Regions from separate parts of the Homo sapiens genome. Here region 1 is linked to region 2. The links come from fine-mapping of genetic effects on gene expression. A gene starts in region 2. The other region holds a variant in brackets. All regions are shown on one strand. Distances are between the middles of the regions.

The links.
Region 1: its variant is fine-mapped to the expression of RALB in lymphoblastoid cells (GTEx, PIP 0.92).

Annotation. Positions count from the first base shown.
Region 1 is chr2:120,272,151-120,281,673 of GRCh38, forward strand. It overlaps RALB (RAS like proto-oncogene B), which reads left to right. Exons shown (of 5, transcript NM_002881.3): 2 at 6,468-6,628. The coding sequence starts at 6,515. Among named protein-coding and RNA genes, the nearest start is that of RALB, 24 kb to the left of the region's middle. The variant T/TGTGA (reference allele first, on the strand shown) is at 5,313.
Region 2 is chr2:120,247,661-120,257,183 of GRCh38, forward strand. It overlaps RALB (RAS like proto-oncogene B), which reads left to right and starts at 5,192. Exons shown (of 5, transcript NM_002881.3): 1 at 5,192-5,320. RefSeq lists a silencer at 4,885-5,474 and an enhancer at 5,975-6,244.

The sequences.
Region 1 (9,523 bases), 24 kb after region 2:
AGAGATACCTGAGCTGCCTTCTCAGTGTGTCCTCACATGGTGGAAAGAGCCCAGGTCTCTCTTCCTTCTCTTATAAGTGCACCCATTGAATAGGATCAGGGCCCTACCCTTATGATCTTATGGTTTGCAAGTGGTCCCCGCCCCACAGATGTAGTTCTGAAATTGTTAGTGAATTCAGTGGGGGAAGTCTAATTGCTTTGGGGAAAATGAATGTCTGTGCTTCATGTTAGGGACAAAGTATACGGATACCTGCAATTTACACTGAAATATATCGGAAAATGAGGTGCACTGATGGGTAGAGAGAGGGACGACAGATGAATGGATTTGTGATAAAGCAAATGGAGCAAAATGTTGATTGTAAAGTCCAGGCAGTGAGTGTATGGATTCACAGGATGGTTGTTTCAACTTTTCTTAGTGTTTGAAACTTTTTGGGATAAAATGTTGGGGAAGATACCTGTATTTTTTTAAGAACACATTTATTGGCTAGGCATTTCCATTATAGGTATTAAATCATTAACGTGAGCTTCCTAAACTTAACTGATTTTTTTTTCCTTCCTGCTCTTTCTCCTCCTGTCTTTATCTAGTCAGTTCCTTCAGCTCTTAGTTCATGCGATGTCCCTCCAGGAAATTTCCCCTGACCTTCCAGCCTGATACAGATATGTCTTTCTGTGTTCCCAGGGCACCACTTGCATACTTCTGCCATAGAATTTATTATCTTGTACTGTAATCATTTACTTACTAATCTGTCTGAACCACTAGTCTTTGAGTTTTTTGAGGGCAAAGACTGTGTTCTGGAATGTTTTTGGTACAAGAAAAAACAAACACAACAGTGGACTCTTTGTGGCTTAAACAGTTAGAAGTTTCTTATCTCTAATACCCTGTGTCATCGCCCGTTGGGTCTTCCTGCCCACTGCACAGACAAAACCAATTCACTGAGACCATGGTATTGCAGTAAAGAGAGTTCAGTGGACTCGAGGCTGGCCACATGGGAGAACTGGAATTATCAGTCAAATCAGTCTCCCTAAAGGCTCAGAGTTTAGAGTTTTTCAAGGATGTTTTGGTAGGCAGGGGGTTAGGGAATGGGTGCTGCTGGTTGGTTGGGGATGCAACTATAGGGGTGTAGAAAATGGTGCTTGTGCCCTTGAGTTCACCTCTGGATGGTGGCGAGGAACCACAGGACTGGTTGAGTCATAAGTCCATGTGGGGTCAGTCTGAAAAACATCTCAAAAGACCAATCTTAGGTTCTGCAATACTGATGTTATCTATAGGAGCAACTGGGGTAGTCCACATCTTGTGACCTCTGACCACATGACTCCTGAGCAGTAAGGGATTATAGGAAGGAGGCCTATATTTTAGCAGAACTCAGGCCCCTCCCATAATTCTAATCTCCTGGCCTTTTACTAGTTTTATAAAGGCCGTTTCAGTCCCTGAACAAGGAAAGGATCAATTTTAGGGAGGGACTATTATTATCCTTGTTAAACTAGAAATTCCTCTCAGGGTTGGTGTGGCCTATGCCCAGGAATAAGAGAAGACGCCGACCTGTAAGACCAGAGGCAAGATGGAGTCAGCACGTTCAGCTTCTTTCACTGTCAGAATCTTTGCAAAGGCAGTTTCACCCAAAGTCTGGAGGTTGCTGTTTCTAGGATTGGTTCAGTGAGGGGCATGTGGTCAGCACCTCTACCTTCCCTGTTCTTTCCCTTAATTATGCCAAGTTGACTGAAGCAGTGATACAGGCTGGAAATATCCACCATGGTTATTTCAGTTTTTGAACTTTAAGCACAGATATTTTGGGAAGTATCGGGGTGTGTTGAATAGTTTTCAATTCATTTATTATTTCTTCTAGAGAAATTGACTTGTTTTTGAAAACAGCAGTTCAGAATTAGATAACTACACGTGTTTGCAAGGATCCCCCCCAACCTGGAAAAATATCCTTTTCAGACAGCCATAATAATTCATAGAACCAGGATTGATTCAGAGAAATTGTGTGACAGGTTGATGGTCTGGAGGTTCCAACCTCATTCACAAACCTCAGCTCTGTAGGAAACAGTGTGGACCAGAAATGAGGCCAGAAGTAGTTTCACCTTCCTAAACTCAAGCCTTTTGGGGAGGTCTGCCTCTTATTCCATTTATTCTATTTTAGCCACATTTCAGATGTGCTTACTTATCTAGTTACTTGCTTAGCTCACTTATTTAAAAAAAAAAAGTACGTAATTTGCAAAGGGGGAGTGGAAAGAACGCCTGGTGTAGGCAGGCGGTCAAGAGTAGGGGGGAGAAGAGCAAATGTGATCTGGACTCCTGGCAGCCAAGGCCTTTCACAAACTGATGAGTGCCCTGAGGTCGTCAAGAGAAAGCTTGGTTATGTTCAGTCTGTGCTGTTTCAGAAGACAGAGAAATCTAATACATGAAAAGTAACTTGCAACACTACATAAATAATGGCCTCAAACAGGTTTTAAATATAGGAAGGTATAGATAAAATTCTGGTATACACAGTTAATAGTGAGTATCTCTGGGTGGTAGGATCATAGGTGCTTTTTATGTGTATTCTGTAAATTTGCTATGAGCATCGTTACTTTTAAAATACTTAAAAAGTATTTTAAGCATTCAGAATGGTTCTTTTTCAACTCCATCAGGTCTTTCAATGATGTCATTTTTTTCACATTTTGCCTTTGTCTTTGTTAAAATTGATCAACTAATACTTTTTATAATATTTGCCTGAAGAGTCCTGCTTGTTACTGCCATTGACTCTCATGAATTGCGATTTGCTTGTGTTTTGTGAGCTGGAATTTTAGGCTTTAGCTGTGAGACTCCCGAACACTCATTGCCCCTTGTTCCCCCAGAGAGGTTTCGTTTAGCATTGCCTGGGCCTCCAGCACTATGAGCAGCCTGGGACCACTTTTCATGTTACTTTATTGGCTTTAGAGGAGTGTTGTGGGTATAGGTTTTCAGGGGAGAATTCCCTACAGCCAGAGCCCAGACAAGCTTCCTTGTCATTTTCCTCTGTTGGCGCACAGATGGTGTGCTCCTTCAAGGGTCTTGACTTCTCAGTTCCCAATTGAAAAGGTGTCTCAATTCTAACTGCTACCTTGTGTGTATGTCTGGTCTCCCAGCCATGTGAATGTGTGTGTGTGCATGCGCACACATGCACATGTACGTTAAATCCTAAATTACCAAGAACAGCAACCATCCAGAACTGCAGGAACTGCCGCTCTTACTGCTCTGATTCTCTCCTGTTTGGGGATCCTTACTTTCTTTTGAGCTCAGCTGTGCATTTAAGAGCAATTCTAAGCCTTGGCTGCTCATGAGGATCACCTGGGAATCTTTTAGAATTTCCCATGCCCAGGTTGCATCTCAGACCAATTATTTCAGAATCTAGGGTGGGACCCAGGTGTAAGGATGTTTCTGAAGCTCCCTGCATGATTCTGTTGTATAGCTAAGAATGGGAACCACTGATTTAAGATGATGTTGTTTTATTTCGCCCAGTGATGTGTGTGTGTGTTGTGTGTGTTTATTTTTCTAGTGGGGATGTTTTCAGGCTATCTCGTCAGCAGTAAGGGAAATAGGAGTCCACCATGTTGTAGTTAGAATGAACACTCTCGTAAAGTGGCCTCGTTGTCTGGAGTGACATCCAGAGTTCTTGGTCTCATGGCCAAGGAAATCAAGGATGCAGACACACCAAGGGTGAGGTTTAGAGCAGAAATTGAATAGGAGAAAGAAAGAGAACGGTTCTCTGCCACAGAGAGTAGTCCTGGAAAAAGGGTTGCCATCCTGCAGTGAAATGCAGGGGTTTTTACAGATGTGCTAGTGGGGAGGCAGTATCTGATCTACATAGGGTGTGGAAAACCAGTTAGGACCAAGTGTGCCATCTGCATAAGGCATGACTCTCTGGCAGCACCCACCACAGTCTTTTATTATGCAGGCGAGTCCTCAGCCTGAGCTACTCTATGTTGCTTATTTCTTTCCTATTGCACATGTGCTAAAAATGGGGGAGGTGGAACCACCATGGTGGACCTGCCTGGCCCCAGGTAGCCCTTCTATTGGTGCAGCCGCTGGCATGCAGCTGTGCAAGCCTCCGGCTTCCTTATCTATGTTTGTAACCTGATCTTCCAGGCTGCTCTTTTTTAGAAAATAATTGATTTCTTGGGCTGTGTTTTGTTAGAAGGGAAGTTCTGGCCAGGTGCAGTGGCTCACACCTGTAGTCCCAGCATTTTGGGAGGCTGAGCAGGGGGTGGATCACTTGAGATCAGGAGTTTGAGACCAGCCTGGCCAACATGGTGAAACCCCATCTCTACTAAAAATACAAAAATTAACTAGGCAGGGTGGTGCGTGCCTGTATTCCCAGCTACTCAGGAGGCTGAGGCAGGAGAATCACTTGAATCCAGGAGGCAGAGGTTGCAGTGAGCCGAGATCGTTCCATTGCACTCCAGCCTGGGTGACACAGTGAGACTCTGTCTCAAAAAAAAGAAAAAAAAAAAAGGAGGAAGTTCTGCCGAGGACTCTTTGCCCTCACTATCTGCCTAAATGGTCTCTTTCTACCTCCTGTATCACTCTTACAATTAGATGGGATGGAAAACAACATTGGTTCATTCCTACTGGGTGCTGGGTCTGTGCCTTGGTGTTTTCCATGTATATCCTATTTAGTCCTCAGAACATTCCTGCAAGGTAGGTGGTGGTTGGTTTTATGCACATAAGAAAACTGGCTTGGAGACATTGAACTAGTTCTAGGGTCACGCAGCTCACAAATGGCAGAACCACACTCATGCCTGCCAGATGCCCAAGCCCTGCCCTTTATTCTTGTGTTTTGGTATATGTGAAATAGATTTTTCCATACAAATTGGTTAAAATAAAGATTGGCACTTGGGTTACGGTAGATTCCAGGTCCCTGTTAAATATACTTACTTGGGATGCTTTGTTGTCCCATAATACTGGAGTTGCTCTACTCATTTTATCTTCCTTCTGATTAGGGCAAATTGATTTTGAGATTTCTCCTTTTAACTCTCATGTCATGAAGGGGTATTTGTTCTTGAACTCACTTCTTTAATCAACCAGAGGGATGTGTGGGGCTGTGTAAGAGTGTGAGAGCATATGTGTGTGTGAGAAAGTGTATGAGAGCATAAGAGTGCATGGGAGCATGTGCGAGAGCGTGTGTGTTCTGTGAACGTGTTACAGCATGTGAGATTGTGTGTGGTGTGAGCATGTGAACATGTGTGTGAGAGCATGTGTGTGGTGGCGTGAACATGTATGTGTGAGAGCATGTGAACACGCATGTGCATGTTAGAGCCTCTGAGCCTGTGATATGAGCATGTGTTAGAGCA[T/TGTGA]GTATGTGGTGTGAGCATGAACATGTATGTGTGGTATGAGCATGTGAACGTTAGAGCGTATGTGAGTGTGTAGTTGTGTGTGTGTGTGAAAGCGTGAGTGCACCTATGAGAGGACAAGTGTGTGATAGTGTATGGAGTGTGTGTTGTGAGAGCATGTGAGCTTGTGAGTGTACATGAGCACAAATTTGAAAGTGTTGTGAGAGCGTTGTGAACGTGTTATGAGTGAAAGTGTGTATGTGGGTGTGTGTGATAGTGCGTGTGTGATAGTGTGTGAGCTTGTGTGTGAATGTGAGCATGTATGACAGCGTGTGCTAGCATGTGTGAGCCTGTGATAGTGTGTGAGAGCGTGTGAGAGCAAGTGTGTGAATATGTGTGTTTGAATGTGAGAACATGAGCATGTGTGAATGTGAGAACATGAGTGTGAAAATGAGTGTGAGCGTGTGTGTGAATGTGAGTTAATGTGAGCGTGTGTGAGCGAGTGTGAATGTGTGAATGTGAGTGAATGTGTGTGAATAAGAGCATGTGTGAATGTGTGTGCGAGTGTGTGAGCATGTGTGAATGTGAATGTGAGAGCGTGAGTGTGTGTGAATGTGAGCGTGTGTGAGTGTGAGCATGTGTGTGAATGTGGGCATGTGTGAGTGTGTTAGTGACCGTTTGTGAGTGTGAATGTGAGAGCGTGTGTGAGCGTGTTGTGAGTGTGTGCGTGTTGTGGGGTAGAGGGTAAGAGGGCAAAGCGAGGAGTAAAGCTAAAGAGCTGGGGATTGAGGTCCCAAGCTGTTCTCCGCGGCAGCCGAGAACCGAGCAGAGAGGTAGGAAACTGGAGCTACGAGCGGTTTGGTCTCTGCCTCAGTGAGGCCCTGCTGAGGGTCTGATGATTTTTGGTGACTGGGTGTCCTCTCCACCCTGCCCAGTGAGGCGGGCGTGGGGTGTGCGCTCCTGTTTCTCCCCTCTAGCCTTGGCTTCGCCCCAGCTGTGCTGGGGTAAGTGACTTCCAGAGTTGTTGGAGGGCTCGCATGTCTGCCCTGAGCCTGAAAGGATTACTTTCCTGTTGGAATGTCTGGGTTAGTTAGGCTTTAATGGAGGATGTGAATGACATTTGGTTTTAGCTAGGTTGAAAGCAAATCGCCTCTAAGTCTTTGTCTTTGTCATCAGCAGCTCTTCAGTGGGTCATCTGTGTGTCACAGCCTCAGAAGACCAGCGAGATGGCTGCCAACAAGAGTAAGGGCCAGAGCTCCTTGGCCCTCCACAAGGTGATCATGGTTGGCAGCGGAGGCGTTGGCAAGTCAGCCCTGACGCTTCAGTTCATGTATGACGAGGTAAGCCCTGCTAGGCACAGACCACCTTCCTTTGGCATTGGCCGTAGCAGTGTCCCTGCTCCCGCTGTTTCTGTGCCGGTCCTCCCGTACACAGGGGTTCACGGAGCAAGTCTGTGTTGAGGTGGCTTCTGAATAGCTTCCTAGGAAGGTCTAATCAGCATAAGATCTGGATTGCTGATTCTAGGTAAATAATTTCAACTCCGGCGGGGATGTGAGAGATCTCTGCTTGCATCGTTTCCATTGTTATACTTCGAGCTTTCTTTCTGACAAAAGCCCAGGGGAGGAGAGAGGAGCCTTTGTACAGATTTTCCAAACAACACAAGCATTTAGCCTTGTGATTGTCAGTCAATCGCGAAGTGAAAGAGAGTGAAAGGGGAGCTGAGCTGTCATACAACTTAATCCTTTCGCAAGTGATAGACATCAGATCCAGTTCTCCCGTGCGGCAAGGTAAAGCTTGCACTATCCTTGCCCAAAATTTACGTCACCTACTTAATGTGGATAACATCACTGGTGTTGAGTTCAGTGTGACAACACAGCCTTGATCCCCGGAGCTACAAAAGTCCCTGCTTGAGCTGTTTGCTAGGATACTTAGCCTACTGTGGGCTCTACATCTGCAGATTCAAGCAATGTAGAATGAAACGTTGCGGAATGAAAATATTCGGGAAAAAAACCCAATGAAAAATAACAATGCAATGATAAAAACAATACAAATTAAAACATGCAATGTAACAACTGTTTGCGTAGCCTTTACATTGTATTATGTATTATAAGTAATCTAGAGATGATTTAAAGTGTACGGGAGGATGTTACATGTAAATGCTGTGCCATTTTAAGTAAAGGACTTGAGCATCTGCAGATTTTGGTATTTGGTGGGGGTCATGGAACCATTTCTCTAGGGATACCGAGGGATGACTGTAGTACAGGCAGGGAGAGTGTTCCGAGCAGAGCTTAAACCTCAGGGCCTCTCACTTGCATTGCGGCCACATGGCTTTATGAGATTTGCGAAAGAAAGCTATCACAACCACGTCAGTTAAGATCACTACCTCTTTTCACTAGACTTTCCCATTGTCCTGCTTCCTCTTATGCTGGGTGCAGCTGGAGTGGCCATGGGCATTTTCGGCCTCTAGCTGAGGGAGTTTGTGTTGGGCTGGGTTAGGTGGGAATAGTGGTATGTGTTGGTGTGGTTTGGAGTCACGCGGCATGTGGCGATTATCGCTGGCTGCAGGAGTACTCCAACCGCCCACTGTGCTGACGTGCGAACATCGTGATGTGAGGTGCAGGGCCAGGGGTGGATCCTGATGCGAACCTGTCCTGTGGCACCTGACACAAGTGTGTGAGAGCTAGAAGCTAGAAACTGGGCCAGAAAAGTCTTTCAGATCTTACAGCTTGTACAGTGAAGCTCAATAGAGGTTTCCTAAATTTGGCAGTAATCCCAAAACTTTCATTACTAGAAATGCCATGTAGTCACATGCACATGTATGTTTATTGCAGCACTATTTACAATAGCAAAGACATGGAACCAACCCAAATGCCCATCAAAGATAGACTGGATAAAGAAAATGTGGCACATATACACCATGGAATACTATGCAGCCATAAAAAAGAATGAGTTCATGTCCTTTGCAGGGACATCGATGAAGCTGGAAACCATCACTCTCAGCAAACACAGGAACAGAAAACCAGACACCACATATTCTCACTCATAAGTGGGAGTTGAACAATGAGAACGCATGGACACAGGGAGGGGAACATCACATGCTGGGGCCTTTTGGGGGGCGGGGGGCAAGGGGAGGGAGAGCATTAGGACAAATACCTAATGCATGTGGGGCTTAAAACCTAGATGATGGGTCGATAGGTGCAGCAAACCACCATGGCACATGTATACCTACATAACCTGCATGTTCTGCACATGTATCCCAGAACTTAAAGTAAAAAGAAAAAAAAAAAAACTCATGTAGTTGTGAAGCTGAAAGAACCTCTTCTAAGCTGTCAGAACAAAAGACATTTTCATTAACCATGCTAAAGGAAAGACTAAATTATTTTTTATTCTCTATAGGAATGTTTCAAAATCATTGGCATATGACAAGAAAAAGTATACAGCAAACAAAAAAGTAGAAGGTATTCTAGAGGTATGTCAGGCAGTTTAATTAATAAAAATATTGTTATTTTGCTGGATTTTGTGATGTCAGTGCTGTTTGTATTAGTTTTTTTTATTACTGTATAATAATCACAAAGTTAGCAGGTTAAAACAACATACATTTGTCATTCCATAGTTTCCATGGGTCCAGAATTGGAGCCTCAGCTGAGTCCTCTGCTCAGAGTCCCACAAGACTCCACTCAAGGTGTCAGCTGGGGCTGTGACCTCTTCTGAGGCGTGGGGGTCCTCTTCCAGGCTCCCTAATTGTTGGTAGAATTTAGTTCCTTGTGGGTGTAGGACACAGGTGCTCGGATTCTACAAGTTGCCCGCAGGCCCCTGCCATGTGCCGTCTCCATAGGCAGCTCATACCACAGTGGCTTGCTTCTCCAAGGCCGGCAGGACAGTCTCCAGCCAGCCTAGACGGTCTTATAAAATGAAATGGAAACATGGGGGTATTCCCTTCGCCTCACTGAGAGTCACCCGGGGGTGAGATCGCTGGAGTACTCATCTTTAAAACTTTATAATGGATTATGATTTCTCATTCAATGTCAACATTTACTTTAATGTCCAGTATTACGTGTGTAATTTTGTATCTTAAGGAAGGGCCCCCATAATGAATAAGCTTCAAACCCAAACCTGGTTATCCTCCTGGGTCATGCTCCCCATGTCTTATAATGAGACACTTTTGTGTTTGGTACCTGCTTTTCTTTATCTTATTCTGGGGGGTCAAACTGGATAAATCTAATGTAATCTGCTGA
Region 2 (9,523 bases):
TGGGAATCAGTAAAGGGCAAGAGCTTTTTTTGGTAGCTGCCTGCAAAAGGCTGCAAGGAAAGGAAGGCTCAGGGCTACTGCTTAGGCGCTCCACGAGGGTTCCCGCGACGCATTGCCCTTACCTGGTGCTTTGCATGAGAACTCAGGAGTCTGAGCTTTTTTTGGATGAGGGGTAGATCCCTCCATCCTAGTGATGTGAATTAAAGATCTTAGGTCCTCCTCTAAAGACCTCCCACAGCCTGGAACTTCAGGTTTTCATCAAGTGCCCAGGACGGAATGGGAATGGAGCTGTAACTAGCCATTTATTCCTGCACGGGAATGAGCCTGTGCAACCCATGCCTGAGAACAGGACCAGACAGCAGGAAGTGAGGCGAGAACCTCTGGGCAGTGAGGGGTGGTGAAACGCAGAGGGGAAAGCTGAGAGAAGGGCCGAGGGCAAGCTCCTCTTGCTGTGGCTGCTTGGAATAGTGTCTGTCCAGAATCATCAGCAGGTGAGAATGGCTGTTCCCCCATCTGTAGATTGGCAGCCTTTTTTCTTTTCTAATTGATGCGGTTACCAAAGATCAAATGCCCCCAGGGATGCCCACAGAAGCTTGCCGGGCCTCTTTCTAATAATACGGTCTATGAATACACTCCTGCCAGCTCATGGAAGCAAGTCTCCACTGCTGGCTGATGTTCTGGGAAATCCATACCCTCCCCCATTTCCTTCCTGGCTTTTGAGTACCCATGTCCCTGGTGTCAAAGCACCTCTAGGGATCTAAACTTCAAACCTTGCCTCTGGTTCCTCTGGGGTTTGGCAGGAAGACTGTTCTGTTTGGTCTTCAGCTCTCTTCAGCTCTCTTGCTCCCTTCCTCCTGCAATCTCTCCAAATCTCTGATCTGAGAGCTGATTACCCTGTCTAGGACCCCACTGTGCGTGGACCCCCGGAACAGCATCCTAACCTCGGTTCCACATCCAACCCTCACAGCCCAATCTCCCCACCACAGCCAGAGTAATGTTTTTTCTTTTTTCTGACAGCTTCTTGCTGTGTCGTCCAGGCTAGGGTGCAGTGGCACGATCTCAGCTCATTGCAACCTCTGCCTCCTGGGCTCAGCCTCCGCCTCCTGGACTCACTCAATCTCCTACCTCAGCCTCCCTGGTAGCTGGCACCAGAGGTGTGCACCACTGTCTGGCTAATTTTTTTATTTTTTATAGAAATGGGGTCTCGCCATGTTGCCCAGGCTGTTCTTGAACTCCTGACCCCAGGAGATTCACCCTCCTTGGCCTCTCAAAGTGCTGGGATTATAGGCATGAGTTACCATGCCTGACCCAGAGTAATCTTTTTAAAACCAAAATCAAAGCATGTCAGCCTCCTGTTTGAACCTTGTGTTAGTCTTTTTTTTTTTTTTTTTTAAGACGGAGTCTTGCTCTGTTGCCCAGGCTGGAGTGCAGTGGCATGATCTTGGCTCACTGCAACTTCTGCCTCCTGGGTTCAAGCAACTCTCTTCTCAGCCTCCCGAGTAGCTGGGATTACAGGCATCTGCCACCACGCCTGGCTAATTTTTTTGTATTTTTAGTAGAGATGGGGTTTCACCATGTTGGCCAGGCTGGTCTCAAACTCCTGACCTCATGATCCACCCACCTTCACCTCCTAAAGTGCTGGAATTACAGGCGTGAGCCACCGCGCCCGTCCGTGTTAGTCCATTTTGTGTTGCTATAAAGAAATACCTGAGACTGGGTAATTGATAAAGAAAAGAGGCTTAATTATTAATTAGCTCATGTTTCTGTAGGCTGTACAGGAGGCATAGCACTGGCATCTGTTCCTGGGGAGGCTTCAGGAAGCTTCCAGTCATGGCGGAAGGCATAGTGGGAGCAGGTGCATCTCATACTGAGAGCGGGGATAAGAATAGGCGGGGAGGTGCCACGCACTCTTAAACAACCAGACCTTGTGTGAACTCAGAGCAAGAACTCACTCATTGCCAAGGAGTAGCACTAAGCCATTCATGAGGGATCTGTCCCTATGATCAAAACAGCCCCCCACCAGGCCCCGCCTCCAACAGTGGGGATTACATTTCAACATGAGATTTGGAGGGGACACACATCCAAACCATATCAAACCTCTTCAGCAGTTTCTACCGCACTAGGAGTAAATTTCAAACTCCTCTGTATAACCGAGAAGCCCCTGCATCATCTGGCTCTTGCCTCCCCTTCCAGCCCTGTGTGACTCACTTTCCCCTGCTCACCATTCCAGGCCTCCTGGCCATTCTCAGCAGTACCAAGCTTTCTTCTGCCTCAGGACTTTGCACAGGCTTATGCCTCTGCCTGAAATACTCTCCTGTCCTTCCTCCTACCCCCATCTTTTGCTAAGATTGATTTTTCTCATCCTTGAGGTCCTAGCTTAAATGTCACTTCCCAAGAGAGATCTTTTTTGACCACCCAGTCTAAAATAATTTGTAATGACATAATTTGTAATTTTTGGGGTGCTTGTCTGTTTACTGGCCTCTTCTCTGTCCTTTTGTGTGAGTTGTTCACCTTGCATCCGTCAGAGCAGGCTAAGCTATGTGCAGTAACAAACAACTCCCACATCGTAGTGTCTTCAAACCATAAGGGCTTATTTCTCAGTCATTCTAAATGTCCATCACAGGTTGGTAGGGGGCCTGTGCTCATTGTAGAAACCCTGGCTGATGGAGCAGTCACATTTCCTAACATTCTCAGTAGCCATACCAAGGACAAGAGAGCTCTGGAGGGTCTTATATTGGCAATTAATTTCTCCAGCCTAGAAATGATTATGTGTCATTTCTGCTCACAAGTGATCGGTTAGAGCTAGTCACATGGCTCCACCCAACTACAGGGCTAGGAAGTTTCCAGTGCTCACAAGAGAGGAGTAGAAATGTTTGTCAGACAGCACTAAAGACTCCCACAGTAATCAATAAATACTTTAGAAGGATGGAGTGTCTAGAATGCTCTTTCCATGGCAGCAGTCGTTTACAGCATCCTTAAGGAGTCCTGCTGGGGATCTTGTATTTCTGCTGCTCAAGCCCCTGGCTCTGCTGGGAGTCAGAGTTCTGGTAGGGAAACTCAGCAGACAAGAGGTCCCCTGAGACCTGGAATGAGCCACCTTAGAGGCAGCTGAGGCTGGTGGCCTCTTGGTTCCCTTCTCCCGTTGGGACACGTTTCCCCTATTGGTGTCCTGTGTGAGACAGCCCCGCCAAAAGGGTCCTGCCACTCCTCTCTGAATATACTGCACAGCTCAGGGTCTGGCATGTCCAGGATCTGAATAGATGATCCTGCTGGAGGAGTCCCAGTAGGACCCCTCCGAGTTCTAGGCAGGCAGAGAATGAAAGCAGCATTTCTCAGAAAGCCCTGTGCATCCTGTTACCAATGCAAAGGAATGGCACTTCAGCACCCCAGAAAAGGTGGGGAAACCTCCTGCATCTGCTGTGGGTCCTAGGGGATGGGGGGCAGGTGGGAACAGTAGAATCCTGGCCTGTGGCCTGATTTCTGACCCTGTTCCCTCAACTATCATACCCTTTTCACTTGGGTAGGCTGCTGCAGCTGCTCTCCTCTCTATACTTGCATTTGACAAAGGGTACCACCACAGCAGGCCCTTTCCACCAGGCTGCACGCGGTCACACTTGATACAGATGGGCTTTGGGAGATAAGGCTGTACCAGATTGGTGATCACACACTTGACTGTACATCGTGGCCTCTGGTGGCAATCACTAATGTAAGCTCACATTCCTGAGGCACTCACCAAGTTCCTAGCACTGTACTGAGAGCTCTATGTGGACTTGCATGTACATCTTCTTACCTATAGCATGGAGGTGCTGCTATTGGGCAGCTGGTGAAACTAAAGCCCACAGAAGTAGTTTCCTAATTAAGTAACTGCTAGTCACAAGGTAGAGCCCTCCTTTAATCCTATGCTTCCAGACTCCAAACCTGTGCACTTAACTGTTACTCCGTAAGAAAAGGTTTGGGTCTGATTCCTCTTCTAGGTTATAAATACTAGGGAGCTTCCTCTTTGAGAAGCCTCCTACCCCATCTCCTTACTGTACCTAGCAAAGTGTCTGTCATACGATTAGCACTCAATAAAAGTTTTAAATGTGAATGAGAATGGTAAAAACAGAATACTTAGTAGGCTAACACTAGGATATTCTTCTGATTGCACTTTTTTGTTAAGTTGGTCACTTAAGACTAAGGTAAAGCTTCTGTGCTTTTTGATATAGATGCTGATGGAGGGACTGGATCTGGTAGATACATAGCAATCTAATCATGGCCCAAAGCCTCCAATATAGTATACACATGCATCCTAACTTACAATGATCAACAATGAAAGAATTAATTACACTGTGCTAGCAGCCATGGATATCACATTGCATAAGAGATAGTTCCCTCCCTTAGAGATAAGAGGCAGACGTTTAAACTGTCAGTTGCGATGGCTTGTGACTCTCATGAGGTCTGCGTAGGGGTCAGCACGGTCACAAAACCTGTGGAGGAGGAGGTGGTTAGGAAGGAAAATCCACCGAGATGAAGCTGTACTGGATACAAAATCACACGTTCCTGGGCTTTGGCAGGGAGCTTGCCCACTGCACTTCCTGCCTCGAGGCTATGGCTGGGGTGGGATTCTGGCCCTTGTAGGCGGCCTGGGTCCAGTCTCCGCCATGCACTCACTAACTCCATTACTGCTAATGGGATGTCATCAGCGAAGCGAGTGGTGGCGGCAGGTGGAGTCCCGCCCCAAGACCCCCGGGCGGCATCCCCATCGCCGCGCTCCAGCACTCTTCGCCACCTCGTAATTTTCTTCTGTTTCTGTATGATCAGGTCTGTCCTTCGCTTTTGCTTTCCATTACTTCGTCCTAGCCCTGGCCTGAATCCCACAACTGGCGCCCCACCTTGTGCACCCGCACCCGCCCTCAATACCGGCGGGCAGCTCCTCCACTGCCGCAGGGTTACCAGCTGCGTGTCCGAGGGGCAGAGAGAGAAACAGAGGGGGACGGGGCAGGCGCGCTGGGCCCGCCCCCCCGTGCCTGGGGCAGCTTCTCATTGGTGAAACCTCCTCCCCGGCCGCCCGCTGCTTGGAAAATCAGCCTCGGATTGGCTGACAGCCCCCCGACGGGCGTGGCTTCCGAGGAGAGGGCAAGAACGGAAGCGAGGGCGCGCTCTCGAGAGGAGGGGTTGCCTAGGCGACGCCGGAGGCGCGCTCGGGGGGTGGGAAAGCGAGCCCGGCAGCTCAATGACAAATCGGTGGAGGACGGCTGGGGTCCGGCCCCGGGAGGGGGCGGGGCGCGTTTAAGAGCTGCGGGCCGGGTGCGGACGGCGGAGGCGGCGGGACTGGTCCCTGGTAAGGGCGCGGCGCCCGCGGGCCCCGGGCGGGGTGGGGCGCGGGCTGGGGAGTGGGGTACGCCGCACGCCCGCAGCCTCTTGCTCCCTCCGTGCCGGGCTGTGGCCGGGCGGCGGCAGGACATGTCGCGCCCCGAGGCCGGCGGAGGGCGACGCCCCGGCAGCGGCCCCGCTCCGCTCCGGGAGGACTCCCTGGGGGAGTCTCGGCTTCCTGGGCTGCCTGGGGCTGAGGAAGTGGGGGCGGCCTCCGCCTCTCCCTTGTAGCCGCGGTTCCTTCCCTATCCCGCAGATGGCTCTGCTTCCACTTCCTGCCGCGGGCCTCCCGCTCGGGACCGTCCACTTCCTCAGTCCTCCGGCCGCGGCTTGGGCAGGGTCAGGGCTGGGAAGTGTTGCAAAAACTTAACTGCCCTCGGAACTTGCACGCGCCGTGAACTGGGCGGTGTTCCTAAAGGGCTTCGGTTTGCTGGTTTTGTTTTGGTCCTGTCTTGCAAATGAGCATAAAGTTGTTTCTCCCCCAGCCTCCTCCCCTTTCCTTTCTGATAGGGGCCAGCGGCGAAGGGGCTTCTAAGGGGAAGCGCCTGGACTGGGCATCGCCGTCCCGGTTCTTGCCGCCTGTGGGAGTGTGAGGTTAACCGTGCTCGGTGCAGGGTTGCGGGGCGCGGAGCTTGCTGCGTCCACACTGCTTGTGTGAGCAGTGTCCTCTCTGTGCTCATTTCCAACGAGAAACGTTGGAACTTTGGTGTTCTTATCAGGTGAGTCTTCGGGAGAGAAGTGCTTGTGCCTGGCGGACTGAATGAATTGGCCGTGGAAGAGACTTGGCTGATTGCTCATCTGGGTTACCTGTGACTCATCTTCAGCCCTTGTAGAACAGTGCACTTTCTGCTCTGTCCTGGTTTCCTAACCTCATTTCTTCTGAAGTTTTGGGGATGGATGGTGGGCATGGAGTATCAGAGGGGATAGTGAATCTTTTAGAGGTGTCAATGACTGATGTTCCAAGCAGAGCCATAAGATTGTTGGATGTCAAAGCTCAGAACCGGTCAAGGCTCAGAATGCTCCTTAAACCTGGAGCAATAGAAGCACAGTATCGAAGTTCCCAGAAATGGGCCGACCATGAAAGGTAGCACTGCATATTGGGAAAAACAGGAGGGGTGAGTTTGAAGACCTGGGTTTGATGCAGGTTCTGAGAGTTTACCGGTGTTGTGATGTGGAGCACGATCTTTCCCCCTCTGAGCTCCAGAGTCAGCAACTGTAGAAGGGTGATGATAGTTATCCTAATTGTTAGGATTAAACGAAATAGGAGCGGGGGAGAAGAAGGCCAGGGAGACATATCCTTTGTGCGTGGCTTTAGTTGTCAGCCGGTCTGCTTTATTCTGACCACATCTGGGGCTTTCCTTCCTTGCCCATTCACATTGCTTCCCATTGGAAACAGCACTCTTATCGGAGATCTCAGCCAGATTTCCCTCTGCCCGAGGAATAGAACATTTTCCCAGGATTGTGTGTGGAAAATAGTGTAAGTTATTAGATATCTTTTGGGAACTTGGGACCTAGACCATAAGGATAAACAGGATTTAGAGTCTTCCACGGCATATGAAGAGATTTTGGTAGAAGATGAGGGTAGAAAAGTTCTAAATTCTTGCCTTGACTGAAGATGGCTTGAGATTCCATGAAAAATTTTAAGCCTGAGAATTGAGATAATCCTTTTTTTGTTTGTTTTTGGGGGCAGAGTCTTGCGCTATTTCCCAGGCTGGAGTGGAGTGGTGTGATCACCGCTCACTGCAGCCCCCACCTCCCAGGCTCAGGTGAGTCTCCCACCTCAGCCTCCCGAGTAGCTTGGTACAGTCTTGCACCACCATGCCAAGCTAATTTTTGTATTTTTTGTAGAGATGGGGTTTCACCATGTTGCCCAGGCTGGTCTCGAACTGCTGGGCTCAAGCCATCCTACCACCTTGGCCTCTCAAAGTGCTGGGGATCACAGGTGTGAGCCACCCCGTCTGGCAGGGATAATTCTTTCTTCCAAATCACGTAATCCTACTATGCCTCTTTGCATTTAGTTGCTAAATTCTTACCCCCCTCATGTAACTTATGGAAGTTAGAAACATCATTAGAGACCTTTCTTGAAAGCTAAATTTGGAGACAATGTAAGACTAGAGTGCGAAGAGATCTAGGTGAACTCTGTAGTTTTCCAGTGTAACTTGTCTCCAGATGGTATACAGGAGTCCCACTTTTCCTTGGCTCCAGTTACTGCTAAACAGCCCCTGCTCTAGACATGCAAGACGCTTGGTTTTTTTTTCGTTTTGTTTTTTTAAATGAATGTATGTTCTGAATGTTATCGCAAAGAGAGCCGAGCACAGAGGAAAAGGAACTCTTCCTTCATCACATGGCGGAGTAGTTAAGGAGGAGAAAAACTAACAGTTACTGAGCATCAGCTGTCTGCTTGGCACAGACCACTGATCCAAGCCATACCAGTTAAATATGTGGCCTTGGAGATTTGACCATGGGCTGTCTCCTTTAGCTCCTCAGTTCTTTTGGTACCTAGGAATATAAATATTGGTGTATGTGTACATATATTCTTAGATATTCCAAAAAGCAGAGGGGCCAGTAGGCAAGAGGGTTGATGAGTCTTGGATAGGTGACAGTGGAAAGAAAGATGAAGAGGATGTGGAAGTGAGTGTCAAAGAGGGACGGTATATGTGCTTACTAGAAGCAATTGCAAAATTCTAGCCAGGTCTCAATTTCAAGTTTGTCACTTTAAAAAAAGTAGCTGCTTATAATTTTCCTTAGTGTTCTCCTGGCTGTTTTTGTTTTTGGTGATGGTGGCTAGTTGTTTTTTAGTTGAAATCTAAATGCAGAAAAGAAAAATGCCATTAATTGATAATTACCAATATATTGTTTTCATTGTTGCTTTTGTCAGTGCTTTGTGGGCATTTTTTATATATAGCATTGTTCCAAGCTATACGGCATGAGATGAAGGAAATATAGTAGTTTGGTCCTGCGTGCCTGGCTGCCTGTAAAGTTTGCCTACCTTTTGAATGAGTTTTCTGTTGCTGCATAACAAATTTCCCCAAACTTAGCAGCTTAAAACAACAGACATTTATGATCTCACACAGTTTCTGAAGTTGAAATCTGGGGACAGCTTGGCTGGGTGCTTCTGGCTCATGGTCTCTCCTGAGGTTGCAGTCATCTGAAGCTCGACTGGGACCAGAGGATCTGTTTCCAAAATGGCACGTTCACATGGCTGTTGGCTGGAGGCCTCAGTTCTACACCATGTGGGCCTATGCACAGGGCTTTTCACAACATAGCTTTTCTCCCCAGAGCAAGTGATCTGACGGGGGTGGGGAGAGAGGGAGAGAATGAATATGATAATGATCAAGATGGAAGCAGCAGTATATTCGTGGCTGATATGGTTTGGCTGTGTCCCTACCCAAATCTCACCTTGAATTGTAATCCCCATAATCCCCATACGTTGTGGGAGGGACTCGGTGGGAGGTAATTGAATCATGAGGGCAGTTTCTCCCATACTGTTCTCCTGATAGTGAGTTCTCACGTGATCTGATGGTTTTACAAGCGTCTGGCATTTCCCCTGCTGGCACTCATTCTCTCTCCTGCTGCCCTGTGAAGTGGTTCCTTCTGCCATGATTGTAAGTTTCCTGAGGCCTCCCCAGCCCTGCGGAACTGTGAGTCAATTAAACCCCTTTCCTTTATAAATTACCCAGTCTCGGATATTTCTTCATAGCAGCATGAGAACAGACTAATCCAGTGTCTAATCTTGGAGATGGCATACCATCCCTTCTACCAGCATTCAGACCAGACCTGGCACAATGTGGGAAAGGACTACAAGAGGGGAGGTCAGGGCACATCAGTATTCTTGGAGGCTAGCCACCACAACTTTTTTAAGGTTTAGTCCAGACATCATTGAGAAAATCTTTCTTTCAGATGTTTACTGAAGTATACTGTAGGAGATGGAAAGACAGCTGAGGTCTTTAGTATTGTAGAAGCTTTAATACTATATGTGAAACTTTTATGTTCTTTCTTCCGGTTCTTTGTTAGATGCTGGAATTAGCCAAGTATGCAGTAGCTTTGGAAATAGAAATTCAGATCTTGCTGGTCCCTAAACCAAAAGGAACATCTGAATTTTTTTCTTTAACCCCAAAACAAGTTGGTAAAAAAATATTGCCAAAGTAATCTCCTTTGATGAATGGCTTAA